Linked DNA regions of Homo sapiens. The main gene of each other region encodes a partner of the protein of the gene in region 4 in a complex. Each region holds a gene or a part of one and is shown on either strand. Other genes may lie near its edges. The genes, in order: ZMAT2, SF3B3, IK and PRPF38A.

Region 1 (7,593 bases), on a different chromosome or scaffold from region 4:
AGCCTGACCAACACGGAGAAACCCCGTCTCTACTAAAAATACAAAAAAATCAGGTGGTGCATGCCTGTAATCCCAGCTACTTGGGAGGCTGAGGCAGGAGAATCGCTTGAACCCAGGAGGCGAGGCTGTGGTGAGCCGAGATCATACCATTGCATTTCATCCTGGGCAAGAAGAGTGAAACTCTGTCTCAGAAAAAAAAAAAAAAAGAAAAGAAAAAAGAAAAAGAAAAAAGAAAGGTCTATGGGGCAAAGAACTTAGGCTTCCAAACCACAGGCATGTGAGAGAGCTTGGAAGCAGATCTTCCAGCCCCACTTAAGATTCATATGAATGCAGACCTACCTTGCCAACTCCTTGATTGCAGCTTCATGAAGACCCTGAGCCAGAACCACCTAGGTAAGCCACTCCCAGATTCCTTACCCAAAGAAACTGTGAGTGGTGTAGTTTATGCTGCTAAGCTTTAGGTTAATTTGTTAATTTACATAACAATAGATAACTAATACAGACAGGAATGGACAACAGTGGGTTTACTAAGCAGCTCAGAGAAGTGTCACTCATTGCTATCTGTGTTGCTCTCCTGCCAGAAAACCTAACTGGACAGAGAAGCAGTGGGGGGCAAAAGGGTGACAAGCTCTTGTAGGACCCTTCTTCCTATAGGTTATAGTCTTGGAAGAAGGTGTACAATCAGGCATCCATAACAACTACAGCCTTTGCAGCTAGTCTGGAACCTCAAACCCCTCTTCTTCACCATTAACAACTCCTAGGCTCTATTCTAGCTCCACCTAATTTCTCTCCTAGAAATCTCCTCAGTAGTCCTTTCCTTCATTTCTTCTTCTGACAGATCAAATAATCCCTTTTAAAATATTAATAGTAAATCAGAATTGATAACAAGTACAATGGCAATAAAAAATTTAAAAACTATATTGAGTAGTAGCTGTAGTGCTCATAGTATGATTTTTGTTTGTTTTGGTTTTTTTAATTGAGACAGGGTCTCACTGTGTTACCCAGGCTGGTCTTGAATTCCTGGGCTCAAGCAATCCTCCTGCCTTGGCCTCCCAAAGTGCTGGGAATACAGGCGTGAGCCACTGTGCCCAGCCAATGCTAATAACATGAAGAAACCCACTGAGTGACCACTCCTAGAGACACTATCATGTCAACTTGAGACCTTGGGAGACACAGAAAAACAAATATAAAGATAGAATTACAGGCAAGAAGGACGTAATCCTGGGGCCAAGGACCTTCCTTAACACTTCCTAAAACCAAAATAGGTGGCTTATTAGATGCATTCTTGGCTGCAGAGGAAAAATGATAAGCAACTCACCCTCCCATCTCAGATTGAGGGGTTGTCTTGGTAATGACAATTGTCTTCCCAAGCTTGGATTCCAAGTCCACCTTGTAGTCCCTATGCCGTAAAAGCTCTCGCTTGACAGGCTGCACTGGTTTTCCTGAAACATAATGGGGAAGGAAGTCCCTTCAATATTATAGTTCCTCAACCAGAAAGGAAAAAAAATGCATGAAATCCAAAATTCAGGTCTTACTCATTTCAAAATCATTCCTGAAAGGACACAACAGACACTTAAAGTAGCAGCTGGGGAGAATCTCAACACAGGAAGAAATCATAAGCAATCCTCAACTCTACAGCTTTTCTCCACTTTAAAGCCAGCAAATCTAAAAACAGTATGTTTTATATTCATTGATTAACTGAATTGTGGGGGAGAATTTCTGAAGAATTACTAGAAGCAACTTTTTCAAAACGGGAGCAAGGACATTCAAGAATGCTTTCAGGCAGATACCCTAGGCATAACGGAAAGGAACCTTCTGAGAGCTGGGCAAATTTATAAAAGGGGACCAACATCTAGGAAATGCCTGTTACATGTCAAGCACTATTTATTTTACATGTTACATAAAAAATGAAAGAGTTAGTGAGTGCAAGGTGGCCTGGAGGTAAAGGGAAAGAAGAATGTACACGTTTGAAACAGATGACAAAATAAAACATTTCTTTATGCAATCTCTTAAACAGGAGAGAAGCACCAACTCCCTGATGTACAAGGCACAGAGAAACAGCACTACTAAGCTCTAGCTGAAACAATCACAGATCCTGCAAAGTTCCCCGGCTTTTCTCAGACTATATGGGAGGGTCTTGATTGGGCCAGGAATGTTCTCTCCCTTAAGAAATTTCAAGGGAAAGAGGGGGGTCACTGATAGCGGTAATGCACAGCAGCAAAATACTCTACTTAACTTCTCTGTCACTACTAAGGATGCCGTTATCTTCTCTGTACTTCAGGAAAGCATTAAACGAGCCAAGCAAAGGGTGGGCAAGGAAGCAGAGTGAAATAGAGCTGAAGAGCATCTCAAAACTACTTACTTCATCCCACCTCCTCGCTCTCATTTTGTAAATGCAGAAACCTAGGCCCAGGGAAGCAGCACTCTGCCAGAGCTTACACCGCGTGGGAAGGCAGCGCACTTCAACTCCCACCCGCTCTCCATCATCGCATCGCCTCTGTGATACCCTTAGCCCTTGATGTAGTTAGCACCCACCATCTTTCTTTTCTCTCTCTTCCGTGAGCCTCTTCTCGGCGAGTTTCTCATATTCATCTTTGTCCCACTTTCGGCGAAAGTCCAAGTTTTTTGTCTGTGGGGAGGAAAAAGCGTCAAGATCCGTCGCCGTGTCTGGGCCCCTAGAGAAGCAGGGAACCGCGCCCTCGCGGTCCAGGTGTCTACAGGACGTTTTGAAAGCAAAGCCTCTTTGGACTGTACGAGAAGACTGAGGTAGCCTCAAGACCCCAACCCGAGAAACCTCCGCGATTCTACTGACCCTCTGCCAAGGCCTATTACTGGGGAGTTCTTGAACCTGAACCCTGGGATCTCGAGGAGATATCGGGAAGCCAGTCGGGTGCAGGAGTTTGTCTCTATTCAGGTCTGAAAAACCATTCCCCACCCCGCAAAACCTCCTCCTCAGACACAACACCTACCCCGCTGCCCGACGCCATCTTCACAGCGAAGTGAATGGCGAGCTGAAAAACGCCGTAAAAAGCGGCTTGGAGCCGTAAGGCAAGATAGCCCTCCAATAAGCTTGGAGTCTTGTGTTCTAAACGAGCTAAGGACTGGAGGGTTTCTAAAACAGGCTTGTTGGCCCCGCCTCTGCTCCAAGGAGACAGCGCAGGCGCAAGAGGAGTATGAAGCAACACGGAAGTAAGGGCGCTTGCAATTGTTTTTTGCCTTGGATTTCAAAACAAGCATTAAAGGGTCAAGATTTAGTTCAACTATTTTACAAACAAGGAAACTGAGGTTCGCAAAACAGTGGTCTCTGATCTAGTCTAGCAACTTTGCGTCCACTGCCAAGAATTTCTAAACCTTTTTTAAGGCCGAAGCGCCATTAGGGGGTCTAGATGCCTCTCATTCACCTGCATGCACTAGGGATATGACCCTAAACTACACTGAAACGTTTGCAACAGAGGCACCCTTCCCGACGCACATATAAAAAGCATGTTTTGCACTTGGGCTCTTTTCCTTGAAGCAATGCTACCACCCTTTGGTTCACTTATTTTTCCATCATCTGGGGAACTTTATAGTAGAACATAATTTAATCAGCATAATTGGATTTGGAAAGGCCAGTCATCAACAACACTCTAGAGTGAAGCACTGTGGCATACCGGCTCACTATATGTTGATTTTTAGCAACAAAACTACCTCTTGGCCGGGCACAGTGGCTCATGCCTGTAATCCCAGCACTTTGGGAGGCTGAGGTGGGTGGATTATGAGGTCAGGAGTTTGAGACCAGCCTGGCCAAGATGGTGAAACCCTGTCTCTACTAAAAATACAAAAATTAGCTGGCTACTCGGGAGGCTGAAGCAGGAGAATCTCTTGAACCTGAGAGGCGGAGGTTGCAGTGAGCCGAGATCACGCCACTGCACTCTAGCCTGGGTGACAGAGCAAGACTCCGTCTAAAAACAAACAAACAAAAAAACTACCTCTTGAGGAGACAGGGAAAGAGGGAGAAACTGTGGCTGCTCATCACTGAATACAGAAGCATCATCCCAGGGAGGTTACTTCTACCTCACAGAATTCTCCAATGTACACTCAAGCATTTTCTATGGTCTATGCAAACAAAGCCCTTGATAACAATAACAAATTACCCAAACTACTACACTTAATATTTTATTTAACATGTTATCCAACCACTTCTAAAACAGCCTCCATGGCACGGTATGGAATAGAGCAGTGATTCTGGCACAGGAAATGGTCTCCAAAATCTCAAAATATCAGATCTCTACCTTGTCAAGTCATCTATTAAGTTCAATGTTCAAGATTATCAAGCATACAGCCCCACTCTTCTACTGTAAGCAATGGATGGGCTAGAGAGATGTCAAATCAACATGGGTACTGCCATGCCCTTAGGATAGCATCTGTCCTCAAAGCTGAAAGCAGCCATTGCCCCTCTTTGCTGTCTTCCAAAAACTCCCCAGACAGGCCAATGGCTGATTGTGGACAAATTCACCAGAATCTGGTTCCGTAGCTACAGTAGAAGGCTAAGTATCTGGTTTCTGATCTCAATGGTTCAGAATCCTGAGCCTGAGGTGACTCTCCCAGAGCCTTGCTCACAGCAACAATCTCACTACCTCTTGACAACGTTCCGTGGCACTTCAAATTTGCCTCTGCAGCTAGAGCATGTCTCTTTCACATCCAGCCATCTGCACCCATGCAGAATAGCTGCTCACACTAGCCCAGGAGTCCTCAGGGTCTTCTACAGTTCTGCACCCAGGAAGAATGGAGGAGGCAGAAGGTACTTGTCACCCTTCCTGGCTAGTTGTTGTGAAGTCCATCACTCAATTCCAGAGGAATTCAGTTCTAGAGGAAACCTTTTCTACAAAGAGCAGCAGATGGGAATCAGGCAAGGATCAAGACTCAGACAGTCGCTTCTGAATTTCAGCCACAAAATTTTCCCGTTTAATGGCCACCTGAAACATAAGAGAATCCTCATGTGATAAACTAGAAAGTGATACTAACTCCTTAGCCACTGTTTTTCCAGATTTGTTTTACTCTGCATCTTCTCCCATTACTTATACAACCAGAAAGGAGTAGTGTGGGTTGACCTGAAGAATGTATACCCTCAAGATGAAAGGGATTCAAACACCTGATCTATGTCTATTATGTTGATTAGTCTCAAAATACCCATTCGGATTTCATTTGTCTTTCTTCTGGCCACCCAGTCAATACTCACAGGCAGCAATGGTCATCTTGAGTGAGTGTTTGTTCATCTCTACCACTATTAACCATGAAGATAATTTCTCAGCCAGAAGATGCATATTTCTTACAGAATCTGGGAAAGGCAGAAATACTTCGTCCCTTCTATTTCTGCTGCCGCCACTCACCTCCTCTCTGCTGGCCACTGAACGGATCTTGATGACCCCTTCTTTCAGTTCTTGCTCACCAATAATGACCACCAGTGGAATGCCTGTGCTCTCACAATAGTGCAGCTGGGTTAATAGTTTGGGGTTGTTCTTGTATAGCATCTCTGCCTGAAAAGGATCAAGACAGAGTAAGGGACTTAGAAGTGAACACAGCAACAAACCTCAGGAACATGGATATCCAAGAAAGCCAGAGATAAGTGGCTAGTCCGCCTACCCTAAAAAGCCAATCTAGTAGCCAGTAGTAGCTAGCAGACTAAAAAGGTTTTGAGTTCCACCCCAGACATAAGATAGATATAGCCCTGGGTCCTAAATTCCACACATACCCAGATGGCTCAGATATCAGCTCCACCATACCTTGATTCCAGAATCCCAAAGCTCTGCAATAAGCTTCAACCGTTCTTGGAGAAAGTTCTTCTGTGGTGTGGCCACAAACACTTGAGTCTCTGTAGTCCGCACCTTCTCACCTTTGGTCTAATAAGAGAGAAGAAAGTAAAACTAATAAAAACCTCCTTTCCACCAGCAATTCCAAAAATCAAGACAAAAAGAATCATCAGAAAACCACTCCAACTACACCTCCAGAAACAGGAGGGTTTTTAGGTCTCCAGCCCCACCTCACACCTATCTAGGACCTACCTTCATCCTCTGCTCCACAATGTAGAAGATTCGCTCAACCCCAATGCTGAGTCCCACACATGGCACCTTGTGGCCCTTGGGGTCAAACATGCCCACCAGCCCATCATAGCGCCCACCAGCAGCCACACTGCCCACATTCAGGGGCTCCTCCCCAGCCTGAGTTGGGGTCTGCAGCAGCACTGCTTCATAGATCACTCCTGTATAGTAGTCTAGGCCCCGAGCCAGGCTGAGGTCAAAGGAGATCTGTGGGGACAAGATTACAGTCAGTCCCAAACTAGACTCGGGACCCTGAGAGCCCTAGAGCTCAGCAGGAGGTCCATTTGCAATTCAGCTTACCTTATCAGCAATTCCAAATAAAGTCAGGTATTCAAATAGCAGCTTTAGGTCTCCCAGGCCCTCCAGGGCCTGCTTGTTCTGGGATAGTCTGGGATCCTGAAACATTTGCTCTACTAGGGATACCCCACCTGGAGAGAAATAAAGTCTCTGCTGTTCACTCACATGTGTTTCATTCAAAATTATCCCTAATGTGCTCTAGCTAGTCTTCCTCATTTTCTTTAAAAAAAAAAAAAAAAAAAAAAGATCCCAGTCTCACATGACAAGACCCTCCTCCTTTGCCTCTAGCTTTGCCATCTGAAGACACAAAGTCGTTACAATAAGTAAAAGAGAAATTAAATTCAGGACAGGCCCTGGAGCTTAGCATATCTACAGAAAAGAGTTGTTTCAGAGGTAGAATTTGAGCACATGTCACCTTCAGCCTGGTTCTATCACAGCTCTGAAAACCCTGGTTCTTACCATGACACTGGACATAGTCCCCAATTCGATCAGCCACCTCAGGAGCCAGGCCTTTCTTCACCACCATCTCATGTCTCACATCTTTCCAAGCCATCTGCATAAACACCCAAACATTAGCCCAGCCCCAAGATCTTTCTTTCTCAAACTGAAAAAGGACAACTCAACTTCCATTCAGTATATACATCACAAGTAGCTAACTGTATACTCAGCAAAGTCAGAGACAGCTTAAGAAATCCAGTCACAATCCCCACTGTATAGCATGACTCAGATCTTCCTTCAGAGTATGCCTCCTTACCTTCCACCCCAAAATAGCCCACTTCCAGCCACAATCTCCTTATTTTTCACTAGTGGTATGGATTTGAGGGCAGGGCAGAAGCTAGATAGGGTCTACTGAAGTATGTCTTCTTTGTTACCTTGTCTAGTTTATCTATGGAGGAGCAGATGGCACGGAACTTGCTTTCAGGAACACCACAGACAGCAAACATCCCATCCACAATCCGCCGGTCATTTACCTGAGAACTCAATGTCAGTGACCCAAGTGCTTGTCAATGCCCTTCCACTCAAAACAATGGCAGTACCTACTTTCCTGACACACAAAAAGGATGGAAATTTCACAGGAAGAGTACAGACATATAGGAAATACAACAGCTTTACTAGGAAAGTCCTACAGTTGCAGGCTTAAGGGTTGGAGTCACCCAAGTTTGGGACTTGCATAAACAGTATTAGGCCAAATCCAGACTTCTCCCACAGTTCTCAGCCC
Region 2 (7,021 bases), on a different chromosome or scaffold from region 4:
GCTAAGGGTAAAACCAAAACCACACAACATAGATAACAGACATTCCAAAGTTCTTATAAAATGTAAAAAGAAATATTAGCCATTAGCTCAAACTAAACCTATCATTAAATCACGTTCAATAGGGAGGAGGGAGATAAACCACAGAGAAAAATCCAAAAGACTAGTAAGAAGGCTTAAAGAACAGATTGCTTGTAGAGTTAGCTTTAGTAGGATGGAATTTTATATCCATTTTTACTTCTCAGATTTGATTCCTCCTTGGCTTTACCCACAAGAAACTGAGCCAGCTTTCCTACACATCACTGTAACCCAAGTTAACAACATCAACTCACCACACATATGTTGCCAAACTTGTCTGCCCCAGCCACAGTGTCATAGTCCAGGAGGCTGGCTGTAGTGACCCATCGGGGGTAGGTATCATCAGCAAAGATGATAAGCTGGTTTTCATTACGCTTGTAGCGAACCCAGATGAAACTTTCTTGGACATCAGATACAATTACCCTATGTCCGATAGTCTGGATCCCAGAGATATAATTGGCAATATGCTGGGAAAAACAAAGACAATAGTGATGGTGGGTGTAATCTTGGGGTTCAGAACCCAAAGAAAGCCCAGCTTTCCGTATGACATACGTAGGGTCAGCAGAACAGCAAATACCAAAAACCAGCAGTTAGCAATGAATTCTAGGTGGGAAAAAAGAGCCAAATAGCTTTTAATATAGTGCAAATATATGCCTAACTCTCACATTTACTTTCCTTATAGAAGCTAGCAAGATAGAAAGCTGGTTCTTGTTTGGTAAGTCAAGAAATGAGATCCCTCTACTCCTGCTCCTCTCAAAACTCAAGGGCCGGTGCGGTGGCTCACGCCTGTAAACCCAGGACTTTGGGAGGCTAAGGCGGGTAGATCATGAGATCAGGAGTTAAGAGACTAGCCTGGCCAACATGGTAAAACCCTGTCTCTACTAAAGATACAAAAAATTTGCCAGGCGTGGTGGCGCGCATCTGTAATCCCAGCTACTTGGGAGGCTGAGGCAGGAGAATCGCTTGAACCCAGGAGGCGGAGGTTGCAGTGAGCCGAGATTGCGCCACTGCACTCCAGCCTGGGCAACAGGGCGAGACTCCGTCTCAAAAACCAAAAAACAAAAAAACAAGGGCATAATTCTGAAGCTGGAATTGGGGTAACACAACAAGTCCTAATAAAGATAAGATTTTAAAACTCAATGCCCACCACCCCACCAATGCCCCCACCCTTGACACATGAGCTAGATCTCAGCACCAATGCCAGCACACTTACCTTATTCTCACATTTTCGGAGTAACTTCTTCTTTCCCAGGTCATAGACACGCAACAGCTTCCCCACACCAATCAACACCCTCCCCTGGAATGGGGCAATAGCAGCAGGGACCTCTTCCACAGGAGTCTATAGAGGAAAAGCAGGTAATACAGCTATTATAAATGCCAGCCAGACACAGGCCTCACCTCTCTGCCCAGAAATGCCTACTTCCACAGGAGCCTATCATTAAGAAACACACCAGTGAGCTTATTTTGCTAATGAATCTGGGTGTTGGGGTGAACAAGTTCCGCATGCTGCATTCACTCAGTAGAGGGATCAATGCTGTAACTGACAAGAAGTTCTGGTACCAGACGACTGCTGTCCAGAGCTTGTGCTCTGTTTAACTGGTGTTATTTCAACAGTGAAGCCTTAGTAGCCAAGTGACTGTAATTTGTGGAGGGACAGGAAAGAAATGCTAGTGAAAAGTGACTTTTTTTTTTTTTTTTGAGACAGGGTCTCACTACTGCTCAGGCTGAAGGGCTGTGGCAGGCGCAATCATGGCTCACTATAGCCTGGACTTCCTGGGCTCAGGTGATCCTCCCACCTCAGACTCCCGAGTAGCTGGGACTACAGGCATGTGCCATCAAGCCTGACTAATTATCTGTATTTTTCGTAGAAACTGAGTTTCACCACATTGCCCAGGCTGGTCTCAAACTCTTGGGCTCAAGTGACCTGCTCGACTCAGACTCCCAAAATGCTGGGATTACAAGCGTGAGCCACTGCACCCAGCCTAGTGACATCTCAGTTGTAAAGGAGAGACAAATTTAATATGCAAAAGGGTCTATGAAGTATTTCTTAGAGGATACTCCCCTTATGGTAGGGTTGAAGGAATCCACATGCTGTCATTGTGGAGAAGAGAATATTCTTTTTATTTTAAAAATTATGGTAAAATAGTCATAACATAAAGTTTACCATCTTAATCCTTTTCTTTTTTTTGAGACAGAGTCTCGCTCTGTCACCCACGCTGGAGTGCAGTGGCGCAATCTCGGCTCACTGCAACCTCTGCCTCCTGGGTTCAAGTGATTCTCCTGCCTTAGCCTCTGGAATAGCTAGGGTTACAGGCGCCCACCACCATGCTTGGCTGATTTTTTATTTTTAATAGAGATGGGATTTCACCACGTTGACCAGACTGGTTTTGAACTCCTGAGCTCAGGTGACCCGCCCACCTCGGCCTTCCAAAGTGCTGGGATTACAGGCGTGAGACACCATGCCCAGCCAGTCATTTTTAAGTATACACTTCAGTGGCATTAAGCACATTTACTGTTGTGTAACTATCACCTCCAGAATTTTTTTCATCTTCCCAAACTGAAACTCTGTACCCATTAAACAGTAACTTCCCAGAGAATGCAGGTGGAAAAGAATATTAAATCTTTTTTTTTTTTTTGACAGTCTCACTCTTGTCACCCAGGCTAGAGTGCAATGGCGCAATCTCGGCTCACTGCAACCTCCGCCTCCCGGGTTCAAGCGATTCTCCTGTCTTAGCCTCCCGAGCAGCTGGGATTACAGGTGCGTGCCGCCATGCCTGGCTGATTTTTGTATTTTTAGTAGAGACAGGCTTTCACCATGTTGGCCGGGCTGGTCTCGAACTCCTGACCTCAGGTGATCTGCCTGCCTCGGCCTCCCAAAGTGCTGGGATTACAGGCATGAGCCACTGCGCCCAGCCAGAATATTAATTATTTAAACTGCTGAATTTTGGTCACAAATTGTTGCCTGCTTATTAAAACAGTAAGAAAGAGACCAATTGAATGTGCATCTATCTCCCCATTATGGATGGTTAGCACAAAGCCTTCCTGTGGAATGCACAGGCACAAGAACATCACTGCAGCTAGAAGGCCCCAGCATTTTCCATGTGCTGGTAAGAGAGAGATTGGAATCAAGGAGCTGGTCCCCAAAAGACCTGATCCATAACATAAGCAAAAGTGAGAGAATTCAATGGGACTTAAAATCTAGGAGAACCACTGGCAGATTCCTACCTTGTGCAAAAACTCCAGTTTTTCCCCATTGTTCACAAGCTTGTAAGTATAGACGAAGCCCCCTGCCACAGATCGGGGGTTTAGTATCAGGTCCTTGGCCACACCCACCAGCACATACCAGTCTTCACCAGTGTTGGAAAACCTGCACACAGCCACACTACACACAGAATAAGAAGCAAGAGTAAGGCCTTAGTCAAAACTCAGAGAGCTCCTGTTCCAGCCTGCCAAACCCTGGACTGTCCTGGGCTGCTTACCTAAAAGCTGCCTCATTCTGTTCCAGCTGGACAAGGTCCAGTGTGTTCCCTTGAATGGGATTCATCACTCGGATCACAGAGGCCCACTGCCCATTGCCAGCCTTGGGAGCTCCAAAGATGGATTCAGGGAGGTTTTCATTGAGGAATGCTGCTGCCATCTCTGCGGCCAGCTCCCGCTCATCCTCCCCTGCTGCTTCCACCATTTCCTAAACCCAAAAAAACGAGTAACTGAGTTGGCGTGCTCAGAGGTAGGGGCTGGCTGAGAAGAGGATAGGTAGCAAGAACACTCCAGGGGGTTCTCAATACATAAAGCAGCAAAGTCAGCCATCCCAGCCAGGATTTCCCGACATGACTATTAAAGGGAGAGGTGTACAGACTAGGGAAGACAGAAGATCAGAAAGGGAAATCCAGACATTGCTGGTTACATATTAGTAGAAAACACCAAAAATAACAATAGCTGTGACAAATATTGGACTAGTGGCTTGAGAAAAATGACAACGGAAACTCCACTTTTCTATCCAACCCATCTGATTTCCCTTACTAAAACTACTCTGTCTCCACTCTTTAAGGATGGATACAGTTCTACGTGGTTGTAGCTATTTGGTTTCTGCTAGGCAATGAGTTCTAGAAAGAGCTGGTGTTGTGGAGAACATGAAAGCTGTCTCTTTTGGGCCCAAATAAAGGAAATACAGTCTATTTTGGAAGCTCAAGGACGGGAGAATTCTGTTTCAGAGAGGGAACTTAATTGTGAATAAATGGAGGTCAGAGTATAGTCCTGGGTTACAAGAAAGGCTCTAAAATGAAGTACTTTGGGGCAAAGGCCTCTGCTTAAAAAAGCTGAAAAAAGCCTAGATCTTTAAAAACAAAGAATATACTAACAATTACAGGAGTTTAAACTTTTGATAGAGTCTCGTGTCCAGAGTGCCACTGGTATGCAGTGGCATGATCATGGCTCACTGCAGTCTTGAACTCCTGGGCTCAAGTGATCCTCCTGCCTCAGCCTCCCAAGTAGCTGGGACTACAGGAGTGCACCAACACACCAGGCTATCTTTTAAAATTTTTAATAGAGGTGCAGTTTTGCTATGTTGCCCAGGCTGGTCTCGAACTAGTGGCCTCAAGCAATCCTCCCACCTCAGCCTCCCAAAGTGCCGGGCAGTTTAAACTTTTCAACATAATTTCACACATCTTTTAATAGAACCCCTGAACGTTAGTCTCATTACCTCTGCCATCTGCTGCTTTCTCTGAGCTTTCGTGGCCTCAGTGTAGGCATTGTGGTCCGTTTCAATGATAATAAGGTTGTTACTCTCAGGGTGGATGACAAATTTCCTGGGTGTGTACTGCAGTGGGAAGGCTACTTGATTGAAGACAGCACCGAGCTTCTCTAATGCCAAAATCCTATGACAAAAAAGCAAGGCAGTTATTTAATACTCACTCGGACCCAGAAACTGGTGTTGAAATAGACTTTGAGCAGTCAGCAAACACGTCAATCCCTGGAGCTCTAACGTTGGCATTAGGCAACATTAAACAACAGCCTCCTACTCTAGAAAACTCTGCGATGCAGACACAGAGATCCAGGAAGGGCCTTCCCATTTGGCAACACCCTACCACAATTCACAGCAGTTCTAGTTCCTACCAATGAAACACAAACGATTGTCAAAAGTTTTTTTTTAATCACTCCAATGATAATAAAGAGCCCAATCCCAAATTTGTTGTGAAACACTGCAATTACCTAAACATATATGGTATTTGTAGTGACTGTGCTTCATAAAATAAAGTGGATACCTTTGTGAACAAAAATCACCTCAGTTCAGGAAAACTATGACAATGCAAGAGACAGCAAATAAGGGACCTACAAATTTCTGTCAAATGGGACAGAGATGTACACATAAGCCAAACTATGTGCAAAATGAGCAGAACCCAGGTACTCTGAAAAGTATAGTTACCCGATCTCTAATGATGGAGTTTTATTTGTAGTTTATTCTCTACATTAAAAAAGATAGGGGCTGCGTGTGGTGGCTCACGCCTGTAATCTCAGCACTTTGGGAGGCCAAAGCAGGCAGATCACCTAAGGCTAGGAGTTCAAGACAAGCCTGGGTAACATGGTGAAACACCAACTCTGTTGAAAATACCAAAAAAAAAGCCATGTATGGTGGCGCACGCCTGTAGTCCCAGCTACTTGGGAGGCTGAGGTGGGAGAATCTCTTGAGCCCAGGAGCTCAAGACCAGCCTGGGCACCAAGGTGAAATCCTGTCTCTATAAAATAGAACACAAAAATTAGCCAGGCATGATGGCATGCGCCTACAGTCCCACCAGGTACTTGGGAGGTTGAGGCAGAAATAGCTTGAGCCCAGGAAGTTGGGGCTGCAGTGAGCCATGATCACACCACTGCACTCCAACCTGTACAACAGAGTAAGACCTTGTCTCAAAAAAAAAACTTAAAAATAAAAATAATTAAATAAAAAAATAAACTGCCTGCCAAGAACTCTGCTTTTATGTCTCATAAGTCACCTTCCCTGATTTAGTTTTGGGGGGAAGTAAGTTCTGCTGCTAGGAAAGCCTAAAAATCTGTAGCGATTGTCTAAATCTATAGCAATTCAGGAGGTAGGGGCCACAGATGAGGCTACAACAAGGCTGGCTTAAAAGACAAGGGGAACACTGACAGGCAGGTATGTATGTGGGTGAAGCATTCTAGCACAGGTAGAGATTAAAAAAATATTAAGTGATGTAGAGCAGTGCAGGGAGATCAATTCTGCTGGAGCAGAAGATAAATACAAAGATGACGGAAAGAAAAAGGACAATGACCATGAAAAGACCCTGAAAGTTGTTGCAAAGAAATTTTGGGAGCTCATTTGATAAGCAATAGTGATTAATCTATCAAGAGGCCATAGTTTCATTATGAACAGCCAATAGTTATAACCAGGATGTGAACAACTTTGGTGGCTTAATTTTAAAAGCCCCCCAAAACCTGAGGAAGCCAAACTGACTGAATTATTTTAGGTTCTTTTCCATCTTGCAAAGAATATTACATACAGTGCTCAAACTTCACATCAATATTACCAGGAAGAACAGTTTTGTCAACTTGAAAAAGGTCTAAATAACTTATAGATAGGTTAACATTTAAGATTTAATACCGCAAATGACAAGACAGAGTAAGAAAGGTTATCAATGCAGTGATCCAATACTTGCTCTAAAACTAATCCAATGGCAATACCCTTTTGCTAGAAAACAAAAATCTGAAATCTCAGGAAGATTGGACTGTATTAAAGCTTGGCCTTGAAAATCTTAACAGAAGCTAAAACACCGAAACTTGGCTCTCAGGTACTAAAATGCTGAGCCAAATGAAGGTTTCAATTGCAACACACAAGCTTCATGGTGAAGTCGGCTCTCTGCCACCTCTTCACAGCCTCCTCCAACACTCTGGCAGAACCAGTCTGAGCCCTTGGCAGAAAGGCTTCCTGCTGAGCTTC
Region 3 (7,182 bases), on a different chromosome or scaffold from region 4:
CACTTTGGGAGGCTGACGCAGGCGGATCACCCGAGGTCAGGAGTTCAAGACCAGCATGGCCAACATGGTGATATCCCATCTCTACTAAAAATACAAAAAAATTAGCTGGGCGTTGTGGTGGGCGCCTGTAATCCTAGCTACTCAGGAGGCTGAGGCAGGAAAATCGCTTGAACCTGGGAGGCGGAGTTTGCAGTGAGCCGAGATCTAGGTATTACACTCCAGCCTGGGCAAAAAGAGCAAGACTCTGTCTCAAAAAAATAAAAAAAAGAAAAGAATCAGTCTGAAACAGACTAAGCGTTTATTAGCTGGAGACTGACTAAACTATGATGGTGTTTCCCAAAGAGGGAAAGACAGCACTAATGGTACAAGAGATTATTTTAATTGGTACACTAACAAAGACTCCTCTCTTGATCAAATTAAAGTCAGACTCCTTTAAAGCTCTCTTCTGACTAGGGCTCTTCCTTGGCCTGCTGACCTCAGTTTTAAAAAGGAATCCTAAGTCAGTTCACAGAAAGTTTTCCCACTCTTGATATCCAATCCAACTTGATATCTAATCAAGTTCCTCTTCTCCCCAAGGAAGACTTTATTGAAGACTACTGTAACAAGAGTCAAGACCATTGTAATAGAGTAGAGAGACTGAACTTAATTCCGAATACAACAGGGACAAGTGAGAATTTATAGAAAATTACTAAAAGCAACTTGGTTAGGTATGGGGGTGGAGCGGTGGTTGATTTCTTTGTTAAAACTGTGCTCAGCAGGCCACGGATGAGTCCTGCTGAAAAATGGGACTCTTTGGGGAACCTGACTAAAGTTTAGCCAAGGAGGGAATGCTTGTCACTGCTCTGAAAGATAATCTCAGAAACACTGAGCAGGGTTTAAAAAGAAGCAAGTTGCAAAAATGATATATACAGCATAATATCATTTAACTCAAATATTTTAAATCACAAAGCAATGTTGTGTTTTCCTCAGATATGCATGTATGTGTATAAATGCATTTAAAAAAGAGTAGGAGGGCCAGGCGCAGTGGCTCACGCCTGTAATCCCAGCACTTTGGGCCGCCGAGACGGGCAGATCATTTGAGGTCAGGAGTTCAAGACCAGCCTGGCCAACATAGCGAAACCCTGTCTCTACTAATACAAAAATTAGCCAAGCATGGTGGGGCATGCCTGTAATCCCAGCTACTGGGGAAACTGAGGCAGAAGAATTGCTTGAGCCCAGGAGGCAAAGGTTGCTGTGAGCAGAAATAATGCCATTGAACTCCAGCCTGGGCAACGGGAGGAAAAGATATGCCAAAAAAGGTAACTGTGGTTACTTCTAAGAAAAGGACTGAGGCTGGGCACGGTGGCTCACGCCTGTAATGCCAGCACTTTAGGAGGCTGAGGCGGGTGGATCACTTCAGGCCAGGAGTTCAAGACCAGCCTGACGAACACAGTGAAACCCTGTCTCTACTAAAAATACAAAAAAAAAAATCAGTCGTGCATGGTGGCACATGCCTGTAGTCCCAGCTACTTGGGAGGCTGAGGCAGGAGAACCGCTTGAACTCAGGAGGCAGAGGTTGCAGTGAGCCAAGATTGCATCACTGCACTCCAGCCTGGGTAACAGTGAGACTCCGTCTCAAAAAAAAAAAAAAAGAAAGAAAAGAAAAGAAAAGAAAAAAAAAAAGAAATGGACTGGAATTGGGGATGTTATCAAAGATGATTTTATCGGGGGCCAGGCACGGTGGCTCACGCCTGTACTCCCACCACTTTGGGAGGCAGAGGCGGGTGGATCACCTGAAGTCGGGATTTCAAGACCAGCCTGATCAACATGGAGAAACCCCATCTCTACTAAAAATACAAAATTAGCCGGGCGTAGTGGAACATGCCTGTAATCCCAGCTACTCGGAAGGCTGAGGCAGGAGAATTGCTTGAACCCGGGAGGCGGAGGTTGTGGTGAGCCGAGATCGCACCACTGCATTCCAGCCTGAGCAACAAGAGCGAAACTCAGTCTCAAAAAAAATAAAAAGATGATTTTACCCTTATTTCCTATGTTTTAATTTGCTATTGGAAGAAGTAATTCCTATATAATGTGTAATTACACAACACGTATAAAAAAAAAAAAAAACTTAACACCTTTCCTGCAGGAATTTCCCTTCTAATACCCTTATGCACTTGGCCTGATCCAGTTAAGGCTCACAGAGATAAAGGGCCAGCGGGTATAATTTTTTACCATCCTTGATGACAAGACATTCAGAATTCTTTCACCATCACCACCACTTTTCTATTCATTGCCCAACTCATTTCCATGGTCCTAGCACAAAATACTCACTGGTGGAAGGAGTGAGGATCATCCACATCGTGGCCATCGGGGGCCAAAGGGTTGGAGAACGGCTCACCTGACAAAAAAAATTGACGTTAATTTAATCAGTCTCTTACGTGTCAGATCCTATGCAAAAATTTGAGATATAGTAGTGAACAATACAGAACAAAAGTTAGAACAGCGACAGTGTCAACACAATGTAATAAGTGCTGAAATAGGAAACTACAAGAAGCTGTGGGAGCACAAAGCAGAGGACCCTAATCCTGCGCTGGAGGATCAGAGAAGACTTCCGGAAGATCACGTCTAAAATACTACGTAAAAGATAAATACGCGCAACCCAGGATTAAGTATGGGGACAGGACTGGGGGAAAGCGATCCACGCACAAAAGCCGCCCATCATCACTTGGAGTAGGAGTGAGGACTGGGGACGGAGTTTGGAGCTGTCGGCCTCACTTAGGACCCTGTGGCTTCTCCGGGCTCAAGCGTCACACATACATACATACACACACACACACACACACACACACACACACACACACCCGGCTTAAGCTCAGAAGCTACAATAATGCGCCAAGTGCCCCAAGTGCCATGGGGAAGAAATAACGGATGGCCTGAGCCTTACTATCTCGCTCCGGCATTTTGTTATCGTTCTTTCGCTGTCACCAACAATCGAGTCTCCAACAGCAACACCGCAGCGACAAGCTCTTTCCCACAGTGCACCTCAGAATCAACCCACACTGCTTTGCGTTCGCAGCCTTTCCGCTTCCTGTTTTTCCCTCCGACCAACCCCGAGCGCAAAGAAATTGACCTCGCAGCGGTCCTACAATACTTTTATATCATTGGCCAAGCTTTACCCCGCCCCTGCCTCATGCAGCCTATGGGCTAGGCTTTAGGGTCCGCGGTTGGTCAGACCGGAGCACTTGGCCTGAAGACCTGGAATTGGCGACTTCGATATTAACAAGGATGGCGGCGGCCGCAGCAAGTCGAGGAGTCGGGGCAAAGCTGGGCCTGCGTGAGATTCGCATCCACTTATGTCAGCGCTCGCCCGGCAGCCAGGGCGTCAGGTGAGGCGCGGCGTGGTGAGGCGGGCGGGCTTCGGGACGCCAGGGTCACGACCTCGACCTCCCTGAAGTTGAGGGAAGCCCCCGCCCACAGCACGCGCGGCGCTCTCTCCGGCCCCGCAGGGACTTCATTGAGAAACGCTACGTGGAGCTGAAGAAGGCGAATCCCGACCTACCCATCCTAATCCGCGAATGCTCCGATGTGCAGCCCAAGCTCTGGGCCCGCTACGGTGAGTGCGGGACGCCAGGGGTCTGGGGCTCCGGTAGGGGAACAAGGGTTTGAGAAGAGAAGGGACCGCCCAAGGTCGTGCAGAAACCCGTGGAGAAACTAGAACTCGGACTTTAGCCTTGCTGTTGATCTTGTTTCCATGAAGAAATTTATATTCGCAGGGTTATATGATGCGTTGTATTCCGGGCAACATAAGTATGCAGGCTGACCGAATCCTGCGTAGGGACCAGGAGCTGACGTTTTTGTAGTTAAGAATGGGCTTCAGACAGGAGAGAAGTTAGTCAATATAGTTTCTCCAAATAACGTGTAGCCAGTGTCAGTCCAGGTAGTGTGTGAGAATCTCAGTAATTTTGCACATAGAGCTGGGCCCTGTGCTGAGTGCTTCCCTGCCTAACTCATTTAATCTTCATTAGTTAGGAGGAAGCGTGTTCTTCTTTTCTCACTGTAGAGATTAGAAAACGGAATCAAAACTTTGTTTTGCACTATTGTTAAACTCTAGCTGCAACTTTAGATGCAGCTAGAGTTTAACAGGATTGAGCCTTTACATTTATTCCCCTTCCTAGAATGCACTTACCCCTCTAAGACTGGCATGGCAATGTATTGCAAAATGAAATTTTCCTATCATGTTGCCTAACACATTGTAGGTATGCAATAAATGTTTATACATACTGAATAACAGGATTTTAATCACAGCTTTTAACTATATGGTGCCCTGGGAATGACGGGAGGAGGTGGAGGAGAGTGACCACCTTAAGCAGATTGGTTCTCAGAGTAGATATCTGTGAGACACAGTAGACATTAGACATGCACTAATAATTGGAGAAGGAAAAAAGCTTCTCCTTCCAAAAGCCAGTAGACTACAGGAGGAGATAGACACGAGTAACTTTAGTGTATTGTGCTGGGTATTATGTTAGATAGCCTATGGGAGCCTAGAGAATGGGTACCCAGCTGGGTGCGGTGGTTCACGCCTGTAATCCCAGCACTTTGGGAGGCTGAAGCAGGTGGATCACCTGAGGTCAGGAGTTCAAGACCAGCCTGGCCAACATGGTAAAACCCCGTCTCTACTAAACATACAAAAATTAGCCGGGTGTGGTGGCGGGCACCTGTAATCCCAGCTACTCAGGAGGCTGAGGCAGGAGAATTGCTTGAACCCAGGAGGTGGAGGTTGCAGTGAGTGGAGATCGTGCCACCACACTCCAGCCTGGGTGACAGAGCGAGACTCCGTCTCAAAAAAAAAAAAAAAAAAAGAGAGAGAATGGGCTCCCAGCTGAGGCTGGACCCATGCAATACATTGCTCACCGTAGTTAATAATAAATGCCTACAGTGCCCCCGAAAGCTTCCCTGAAACAACCCATTGCGGCCATCCAGAATCAGCCAAAATTCTATTTGGACTTGGGCTTCCTAGATGTGTTTGAGACCTATTGTATTAATTCTAGGCATACCAAATGTATTTTGATCATATCTCTTTAATACTCTTCCTGTCTTAACAAGACTAAGATAAAGACAAAGATCTTTTATTTTACTTTGGTAGCCTCCAGGGTGCAGAATAGTTAAAGACACCTCCCTCTCTCTCTTCAGCATTTGGCCAAGAGACGAATGTCCCTTTGAACAACTTCAGTGCTGATCAGGTAACCAGAGCCCTGGAGAACGTTCTAAGTGGTAAAGCCTGAAGCCTCCACTGAGGATTAAGAGCAACAGCCCCAGAGCCTGGGCTCTGCTGGACTTAGTATAATGTGAAAAAAATGTGTTCTCCTATTCCTCATAAAGCTTGTGCTGTAAAATACTTTCTCAGGGTGTTCTTGTCCTCATCTACCCTCTACCCCTTACTGTGCAACCACTGAGGCAAAGTAGCTTAATATAAAAATAAAACTTTATTCTGTCTCATCAAAAGCTACCAGCTGCTGAAGCAAACATGAAGGGTGGCGGGGGGGCAGGGATTCTAGGGCCCCAGAGTAAGTAGACCACACTGAGTCCCTTTTGGTCCTCCTGCCTGGATAGTGCTGAGTGGAAGGGGAGGAGCTGGGACCCAAAGGTCTTGGCTTAGGTGTGGGAGCAGAGAACATGAGACCTCATTATGGTCCTAAATCTCCAAAGGCTCTACTGGACAAACAAGCTTGATGTTAAGAGAGAGGGGAATGAGTGACATTGAGAAACAAGATCACCCTTGAAGAGCTGTCTGCTGGAGAGCATACACACGATCCTGGAGCTGGGCCTCTTCCTGATGCCTTTCCAGGGCTTGCAGCCCTGACTGCTGCAGGAAGACCTGAACAGCCTAGGGGCAGGGAAGAAAATTCAACACACCTGGTCTCTGTGTCCTAAGACTCAATTCCCACAGCCTCATGGGTCAGCCTACTCCAGAGGGTGCATTCCCCAACAAGAGGATGAAGTTTCTGACATGGAACCTATATAGGTTAGCCAGGCCCAGAGAAACAACTATAGTTAGGACTGGATGGGAAGGGAGCCACTGTGTGGCTTCAGAACAGGGGTGACTGAGGATGTGGGCCAGAAACCTATACCTCTGGCTGATACAGGAACAGCAGATGCAGCAGCTCCAAACTCTGGCCTACTACTTCAGTGTCAGAAAAGGCTAGTGTGTGCAGCAAGGCGGGAAGCAGGGGCCCTGGCCACAGCCGCTGGCAGTAAGCAGGACCCTTTTCTGCAACATTGCACAGAACTGTGAGCACCTGCAGATAGACACATATATAGTCTACAAAGAATGAAACACAAAGATCATAACAATAGCTAAAATATATGACATGGTGACCACATGCCCAGGCACCATGCCAAGCTCTTCTACATACATGTTCTCATACTCCTACAACTACCCTATGATGCAAGATTATCCTCAGTTATAAGTGAGGAGACTGAAGCTTAAGGTGGTTAGTTGATTTGTCCAAGGATAAATAATCCAGTTTAAGGGACACACACCTAGATTGGTTGGGCCCTGAGGCCACACACCACCACCTGCTGGCTCTCAACTAAGGGTACATCTGAGGGCTCAGGACTGCTGTCCCATACAATCCGACTACCAGATCTTGGATTCAAGTAACCCCAATACATACCATTACGCTCACCACGTTAGATACTGGCAACAGCTGTAAGAGAGGCTCAATCAGATCCAGGGAGAGCAAGGAGGTACAGAAACTAGGACTGTTTGCTGGAAGAGAAGTACCAGGGTGAAAAACTGCTTTCCCCCACCACCCCTGTCAATACTACCCACCTCAGCCTAGGCCATGAGGAAATATCCCCATTATCCAAATGTCCAGGCCTGGGCAGATTATGGTGCGTACCAGTGAGGTTGTTGAGGAGCCAAAGGCCCTCAGGGAGCAGACTGGGCTGTTTCTGGAAAAAGAACTGCAGAAGGATAAATAAGGCTGCCACAACACGCTCATCTCTGAGCTGCATTTGCCCTCCCACAGTCTCCACTGCTGCCTCAGTTAGCAGGTTGCTTAGACATCGAAGCACGGGGCATGCCAGCTGCAAAGACAAATTGGGGGGTCAGGTGTAAGAAGGAAGAGGTTACCTGCATTCCAGAGTATCAAGAAACATCTCCCAGAATTTCACCTGACATCTTCACCTACCAGCTCCAGTCCT
Region 4 (7,558 bases):
CGAAGCCCATGATTCTGATGTGCTGCCTCTACTGGACATTAGTTTGATGAGGTTTTTCTCCATACTTCTAAGTATGTCAAAGAGAAAGTATGTCCAAAATCCTCCTTATCTATGTGCAGTACTCTCCCCTTATCTGCTGAGGGTACGCGCCAAGACCAGTAGATGCTTGAACCTGCAGATGCTGCCACTAACCCTGTATATGCTATGATTTTTCCTACACACACATACTGTACAGCACGGATACACTGGACAAAGGGATGACTCACATTTCAGGTGGGACAGCGTGAGATTTCACCACATTACTCACAATGGCACACAATTTAAAGCTTATGACTTGTTTTTTTCTGTAATTTTCCATTTAATATTTTTGGACTATGGTTGTTGTCAGGTAACTGAAATCGCAGAAGGTGAAACCACGGATAAGGGGGACTATAGTAATATAAAACATCTTTATCCACTCAGTCTATCAGTTCCTTCTCTTGGGCATACAGACTACCACAGGATTACCTAATGACCATGCCCTTCTTCTGTCTCTTGAACGAGGCAGTTTTAGATAGTTTCAAATTGCTATCTTCCTAATCCTCCTTGTGGAGCTGTGCCCCACTCCCACATTTCTGTGCTCTCCTCTTGTTTTGCAGAGGGTTAGAAGGTCAGCAAATCAGCTAAGGCTTTCGATGTGGGCTTGTAGGCTCTGGTTGATGCCACCTTCCCTTTTGTTCCTCCAGCCTAGGGGCAGCCGTGGCTTCCTGCACTTACTCATCTCTGGTAAATGTCACCTTTTCTTCTAGCCTTTCCAACATTAACACACAAGTTCCTCTGGGTAAAATATCTTAAGTGTTTTTGTTTTCCCTGACTGAAACCCCAATTGCTACACCTTCCAAATCCAACTTACCTCTTCACTTGTAACGAAGTAGCACTTGCAAAATATATTACTAACCTTCATGCCAAAACTAAAGGACACATCTCTATGATAGTACAAATTACCTGTTTTTTCCTTCTCCCTTTCCCCCAAATTCATCCATTCTCTCCATCCCCCCCAATTCTGCCTTAATAGCCTTGCTTACTCCCCAAAATAATGAAAAAGTTAAATTATTGAGCCTTCCAGTTCCGTTTTACTCAATACTGCTTTGGTGAGTAAAGAAATTTTTTAGATGGAAGAAGACGCAGCTAGTTCTTACGTGATCCCACCTCAGTCTAATGTGCCCTGCACACTGCTGTGAACAAAAGAATCCACAATCTCCCCACCTCCCAATCATTCATGACAAGGAATGGTTTATTATTCCAGTCCCAAACTCACCATCTTCGAACAACTCAAGCAATTTAGCAACATACGGGTTTTCATCATCATCCCCTTCAATCAACACAAACTGTCCAATCTGGATGTGAATCTCGGTGGAACAACCTTCTGTTTTCACACACATTTCTCTAGGAAGTAACAGAGAAGCACATTAGGAAATAACTTAAAGTGGGTCAAGCTCTTCAGATCCCCTGGGCACAAAGGAGAGGGCTCTCCAATCCTGATTTCTTTCTGCTGACCAACTCTCCTACTGGGAAACCAATTCGCCCAGTTATATTTAAGAATAGGCAAAATGGGTTGAATGAATTGTTTTAGCTGAGTAATGAATCCAAAGGTCTTATTAGGAACCCTAATTCCTCTCAGTTATTGACAAAGAACAACAAATGCTTCCCACAACAAATGTTTCCCAAGGCTGTCAAGCTGCCCAGTAACAATGTCAAATTGTCAGAGATCTCCAGGGCTGGGAAAGACATAGTAAAAACATCTATCATCTCGTTTTCATCAAAAGTTATATAGAACTCACCTTAAATAGACATGACATTATCCTACATACAAAATTTTATGAGCCTGCCATAATTTTGCTCCATCACTAACTGCTATATTTATCCCACCATCTTCTTGCATCAAACAAAACCCTCCTTACAATCAGTTCTAATCTCCTGTTCATTCATGGTCAATCTGTAGTAATTAGAACAGGCTAGATACAAGTTGACTGTTTAGCTTGAGAAGCTGTATTTCCAGGACAACCAAAGGACCCCATCACTCACCTATAGGTTTGGTAGTGCAGTTTTCGATCCAACAAGGGCCTGCCAACCCATGAATAAGTTTTTCTGGTCTTCAGCCTTGTGGGGTAGTGTGCCATGGCTTCTGTGGAAGAGTCCAAACTCTGAGTTACCATGATAAATATTTGGTATTTATCTGATGGATTCTAAGACATAGTCAGTCCCTCCCTTCAAATGAGATCAGACTTATTTTCTGCCCCTGCTACACTCCCATACATTTTAGACTAAGAAAACATTTTATTTGAAGTCATGGTCTACGAAGATTACACACAGGCAATTTAGTATCATCTGTGTCCATCTTGTACTATGCCGTATCTCTTTCCATCCAGGAAAACAGAAAGGTCAATTCCTAAGAAATGAAACTGTAACATTTAGAAATACTAGGAATAAGGCAGAACAATAGGTGTAAAACATCTAACAAAGTGAAATTAAAAGACAGTGATACAGGGGTTGTAAATGTCTTCATGACGCTTATAAAATGCACACAAGGATAAAACAGAAATACAAAGGCTGGGCGCAGTGGCTCACGCCTGTAATCCCAGCATTTTGAGAGGCTGAGGTGGGTGGATCACCTGAGGTCAGGAGTTCGGGACCAGCCTGGCCAACATGGTGAAACCCCGTCTCTACTAAAAATACAAAAATCAGGTGGGCATGGTGGCAGGCAAATCACTTGAACCCGGGAGGTGGAGGCTGCAGTGAGCCGAGATCGCAACACTGCACTCTAGTCTGGGTGACAGAGCAGAACTCTGTCTCAAAATAAAAAAAAGAAAAGTAGATGTTATTATCACTTCAAGGTGATAACTTATCCTATCTTATACAGGATGGCACAGCCTTAACTCAAACCCGGAAAAGCCAGACTGCAATTACTGTGCTCTTAACTACTTCACCTTACAACACACTGTGTGAAACTGGATAATGTTAATATGTAACTGAGAGCTTGCTTTTGGTGTACTTATTACAATAAATCAGGCTTCCCAGCCACTGACTGAACATTGTGGATTGGGCCTCAATTTGCTTACCCACAAAATGGAGAAAATAGAATCTTCCGTTTATTCAACCAATATTTATTAAGTACCCATCGTGTGCCAGGCACTATTTTAGGATAATGGAAGATTAAGTGAAAAAATGCAAAATGGTAAATCCACTTTCCCACTACCTTAATCCCTTGCATTTATTTGTAAGGTACAGTGGTTTTATTTATTAAGTATCATTTGATGAATACTATGGAACTAACATAATTCAAGCAAAATTTTGCATTCAATTTCGGCAGATTCACAAACCTCCTAAAGTCCACATATTGCCCTCCATTAAAGTTAAAAACTGTTGCAAAGGGACTTAAACCATTCTGTCATATTGGAAACTCCTTTGGCATTTCCAGCCCACCTAACACAGCAGAGACGAGGGTACTATTATTCATGTGTTACAGACAACTAGAATCGTATATAATCATTGCAGTTTCACAAATAGATCAGGATAAGAATGCCTTTTCCAACTGTCACAGCAGAAGACTCTTCAATTCCGGGGTTAGAAAAGAGAAGTAGGAAGGGGGCCACCAGACTTCTCTTCTGAAAAGAAGGTGAATGACAGACAGCCCAGCAGTTAGGAGCTCATCTGAAAAAAAGATCTGGGTAGGAGCCCAGACTGCTTAGTCACGAAAAGCGACCTAAGACACGTCCCTCCCTGGGCGCAATTTACGTCCGTAAAATGGGGTAATAACCTCTGCTCCGCCTTCCCTGTAGTGGTTCCTACACTATAGCTCAAAGAACGAAACAAGTAGAGTGCTTTACAAATGCAGATGGAGGGAAAGTCATCACTGAGCATCAGGGTGCGGAGGGCAGGAATGCTCCTGCTTCTAGGCTGTTGGCTTCCGCCTTCCCCCCTGCAAACTCAGTTCCCTGCAGCGCGGGAAGCCTTTTAGGAATCGGAGTGTGGAACAGAGGAACGCTCTTAACAGTTCAGAACAGTGCCTGGCACTGAACAGGCGCTTGGTACATGTCAGCTAAAAGAATCAATGACTGAGTCTACAGAGAACGTCCTCAGTTTCAGAGGTTCCGATGCGCCCTCCCCCGAGTCCCTCGCAGCCCGCTGGACGCCACACTCACCCGGCTCCAAAGCTTCCTCCGGCTAGCCGCAAGCCCTCCGTTTCCTACCGCCTCCACTTCGAGAGCTCCGGGGGATGCGGCACCTCTAACCTGCACCAGCAGGGCTCCTTCTACAACTACGGGCCGAAAGCCAGGACCAAAGCGTGTGTCTCACTAGAAATGAAAAGAAGGTGGAAGGAGAAAAGAAAACTTCGCGCCAATCGGCGTGGCCCCGCCCCCAGACCGTCCCTTCGTTGCGACACCAACTAGCTCGCCCCGCCCACTCCGTACACCTAAGAGGGGCGCATGACGTACATCCGCTAACATGCAGCCGCCATCATTGATTCGATAGGCGACGCGGGGAGCGGAAGCCCTTTACACTACGGTGTTTCCGGCTTCAAGATGGTCGCCTAAGCTGTTTAGTGAAACTTCTTCCACCTTTCTCCATTCCTCTAGGTGCTTTTTCTGAACCTGGATGTGAGGCATTAAAGGATCCGACGGAAATAGAATTGAAGGCATTCTAAAATGGCTAACCGTACAGTGAAGGATGCGCACAGCATCCATGGCACCAACCCTCAATATCTGGTGGAGAAGATCATTCGAACGCGAATCTATGAGTCCAAGTACTGGAAAGAGGAGTGCTTTGGACTTACAGGTAAGTGGAAGCGCGCGGAGCGCCTCTCAGCCCCCTTGTGGCCCATTTCTCCTGACCGAGCGCGGGTAGGACTAGCGACTGGCCTCTGGGGGTGGTACTGGAACGGAGTATGTCGATCATTCAGAAAAATTTTGAGTGCCTGCTAAGTGCCTCGTCTTGTGTTGAGTATTAGAGGCACAGATGAATCTGGTAAGGTCATATTCTGAAGGCTGTCTCAGTTGGGTGTTGTGAGTTATTCCGTATTTAATGATAGCAGGCTGGGTTGCAACAGTGTTAAGCTCAGGGATCCGGATATAACACTTTGACACAATCTGTTGAAGGTCTTTAAGGACCTAACGTTAATATGCCTGAAACCAAATTCATGATCTTACTATTCTTAGATCTGGGCCGGTTCCAGTATTTATAAATATCAGTGCTTCAGAGAAGTCTTCCAGGTAATCTTCCGATTTGAATTGTGGCTTTAAATCCATGTCCTGTGACAATCTGTGGACCTTGAGCAAGTCACTTTACCTTTCTTAGCCCTCATTTTCCTTACCTGGAAATAAGAACATTGCTAGAACTTTCTTCATGACTTGTTAAAAAAGGTTAAGTGAGATAATATGAAAAGCTTAGCAGGGTACCTATTTTATTATCCATTCTCAATGTATATTAGCTGTTGTCGTTACTGTTATTAATACACATTCGTTCTCCTAATATTACACTGTTGATGTATATTTAGGAGAACCAAAGCTTGAACTAACTCCACTCCAACTAGGAAGAGCTTAGCCCTAATATGTTACTGTATTGTTTTTGTTTTTTAGCTGAACTTGTAGTCGATAAAGCCATGGAGTTAAGGTTTGTGGGTGGCGTCTATGGTGGCAACATAAAACCAACACCCTTTCTGTGTTTAACCTTGAAGATGCTTCAAATTCAACCCGAGAAGGATATCATTGTAGAGTTTATCAAAAATGAAGATTTCAAGTGAGTGCAATGTTCACTAGCTAATATAAGAGGTTTAATTTTGGCGGTTTAGAATTGGGCTTTGGTTAAGAGGGGTGTACACAATGTATCTCATTTCTAGAGAGTTCCACTCCAGATTTTTGCTTTTGAGCCCTTGAGTTTGTATTTTTTGTTTGTTTTTTGTTTTGGAAACAGAGTCTCTCTGTGTTGCCCAGGCTGGAGTGCAGTGGTGCGATCTCGGCCCACTGCAACCCCCATTTCCTGGGTTCAAGTGATTCTCCTGTCTCAGCCTCCCGAGTAGCTGGGATTACAGGCATGTGCCATCACGCCTGGCTAATTTTTGTATTTTTAGTAGAGATGGGGTTTCACCATGTTGGCCAGGCTGGTCTCGAACTCCAGACTTCAGGTAATCCCCTCCCCCCCCGGGCCTCCCAGAGTGCTGGGATTACAGGCATGAGCCACCACACCCTGCCAAGTTTGTATTTTATCTGTTCTGATTGTATTAATCTTCTACTTTACTTTCTCAGTTTTGGTAATTTTTCCCTGAAAAAGGATTTCACAGATTCACTAAATACATATTAAGCAAAAGTGAGTGCCTGATATGTTGGTAGGCACTGGACGCTCAGGGGTGAAAATCAAACAACAAAAGGTGGTGGTTAAGAGGTGTAAGATCTGGGTTCACATCCAGATTCTGTTGCCCATTAACTATGACATTGGAGAGGTTACTTAATTTTCTAAACTTTGCTTATCTGTAAAATGGTGACTATAATATAAGAGTGAAAGAACGTAATGCATGCAGATCTCTGAACACAGCACTTGCTGCATGGTAAACACCTAGAAAATGTCAGCTTATTACCGTATTACCGATTCTCGAGGAAATCACAAACAAGTATAGGAGACAGACATAATAGCTTCTTATGTGCCATGCTGTAAGGGCTTTGCATATAATAATTCATTTCACTTTCACAACAACCTTCTAAACTTTTAATCCCTATTCTACAGGAGAGGAAACTGAGGCACAGAGATTAATTAATTTTGCCCAAGTTCAAACAGCTAGTAAGTGGCAAATCTGGCTTCAGAGTTCATATTCTTTGCTACAGTATTCTGCTTCTCGTACAAAGAAACTATGACTTTCAAAAGCCTCCTAGTTACCCAAGAGGAAATTTAAGTAGTTAGATATAGGAAAAAGGGAAGAGGAACAACTCTTTTTTTTGTTTGAGACAGAGTCTCGCTCTGTTGCCCAGGCTGGAGTGCAGTGGCGCAGTCTCGGCTCACTGCAAGCTCGGCCTCCTGGGTTCATGCCATTCTCCTGCCTCAGCCTCCCAAGTAGCTGGGACTACAGGCGCCCACCACTACACCCGGCTAATTTTTTGTATTTTTACTAGAGACGGCATTTCACCGCGTTAGCCAGGATGGTCCCGATCTCCTGACCCGGTGACCCACCTGCCTCGCCTCCCAAAGTGCTGGGATTAGAGGCGTGAGCCACCGCCCCTGGCTGGAACGACTCTAATAAAGCATTAACAGCTAGAAAATACCTAACTTTTGTTAGGCACTTACTGTGTGCTCTGTGCTATACTTAGCACTTTCAATGCATTTCTTGTTTATATACCAAGCCATAAATTAGGTAGCATTATCTCCGTTTTACAAGGATTGAGAAAACACATGATTTGACCAGTAGTGTCACAGACTTAGTAAATTACGGAGTCAGAATTTGAACCCAGATGACTTACTTTTTTCCAAAACCAGCAGTCATGTTTATGTGTACTTGTTCTTGTATTGTTATTAAATATATCTTCTTTCTGTT

What was found.
Region 1: PRPF38A (region 4) and ZMAT2 share a complex: the UniProt entries of both Homo sapiens proteins name them as parts of the spliceosome B complex.
Region 2: PRPF38A (region 4) and SF3B3 share a complex: the UniProt entries of both Homo sapiens proteins name them as parts of the spliceosome B complex.
Region 3: PRPF38A (region 4) and IK share a complex: the UniProt entries of both Homo sapiens proteins name them as parts of the spliceosome B complex.

Annotation. Positions count from the first base shown.
Region 1 is NC_000005.10:140,695,855-140,703,447, reverse strand, and holds the start of ZMAT2 (zinc finger matrin-type protein 2), read right to left. Parts: upstream 3,002-7,593; 5' UTR 2,988-3,001; coding exon 2,970-2,987; intron 2,630-2,969; coding exon 2,536-2,629; intron 1,443-2,535; coding exon 1,319-1,442; intron 1-1,318. Other genes in the region: HARS2 (histidine--tRNA ligase, mitochondrial isoform 4 precursor), read right to left, coding at 4,896-4,955, 5,370-5,516, 5,763-5,879, 6,042-6,284, 6,378-6,505, 6,834-6,927, 7,247-7,345. UniProt on the Homo sapiens protein: Involved in pre-mRNA splicing as a component of the spliceosome.
Region 2 is NC_000016.10:70,561,804-70,568,824, reverse strand, and holds part of SF3B3 (splicing factor 3B subunit 3), read right to left. Parts: intron 4,950-7,021; coding exon 4,775-4,949; intron 3,761-4,774; coding exon 3,555-3,760; intron 3,458-3,554; coding exon 3,301-3,457; intron 1,415-3,300; coding exon 1,289-1,414; intron 543-1,288; coding exon 330-542; intron 1-329. UniProt on the Homo sapiens protein: Component of the 17S U2 SnRNP complex of the spliceosome, a large ribonucleoprotein complex that removes introns from transcribed pre-mRNAs.
Region 3 is NC_000005.10:140,643,663-140,650,844, reverse strand, and holds the start of IK (protein Red), read right to left. Parts: upstream 3,017-7,182; 5' UTR 2,937-3,016; coding exon 2,921-2,936; exon of another isoform or gene 2,919-2,920; intron 2,375-2,918; coding exon 2,308-2,374; intron 1-2,307. Other genes in the region: NDUFA2 (NADH dehydrogenase [ubiquinone] 1 alpha subcomplex subunit 2), read left to right, coding at 3,262-3,362, 3,483-3,589, 5,167-5,258; TMCO6 (transmembrane and coiled-coil domain-containing protein 6), read right to left, coding at 5,747-5,860, 6,105-6,272, 6,651-6,745, 6,879-7,065, 7,170-7,182. UniProt on the Homo sapiens protein: Involved in pre-mRNA splicing as a component of the spliceosome. Auxiliary spliceosomal protein that regulates selection of alternative splice sites in a small set of target pre-mRNA species. Required for normal mitotic cell cycle progression.
Region 4 is NC_000001.11:52,400,065-52,407,622, forward strand, and holds the start of PRPF38A (pre-mRNA-splicing factor 38A), read left to right. Parts: upstream 1-4,537; 5' UTR 4,538-4,685; coding exon 4,686-4,815; intron 4,816-5,615; coding exon 5,616-5,775; intron 5,776-7,558. Other genes in the region: ORC1 (origin recognition complex subunit 1), read right to left, coding at 1,298-1,425, 2,065-2,159. UniProt on the Homo sapiens protein: Involved in pre-mRNA splicing as a component of the spliceosome.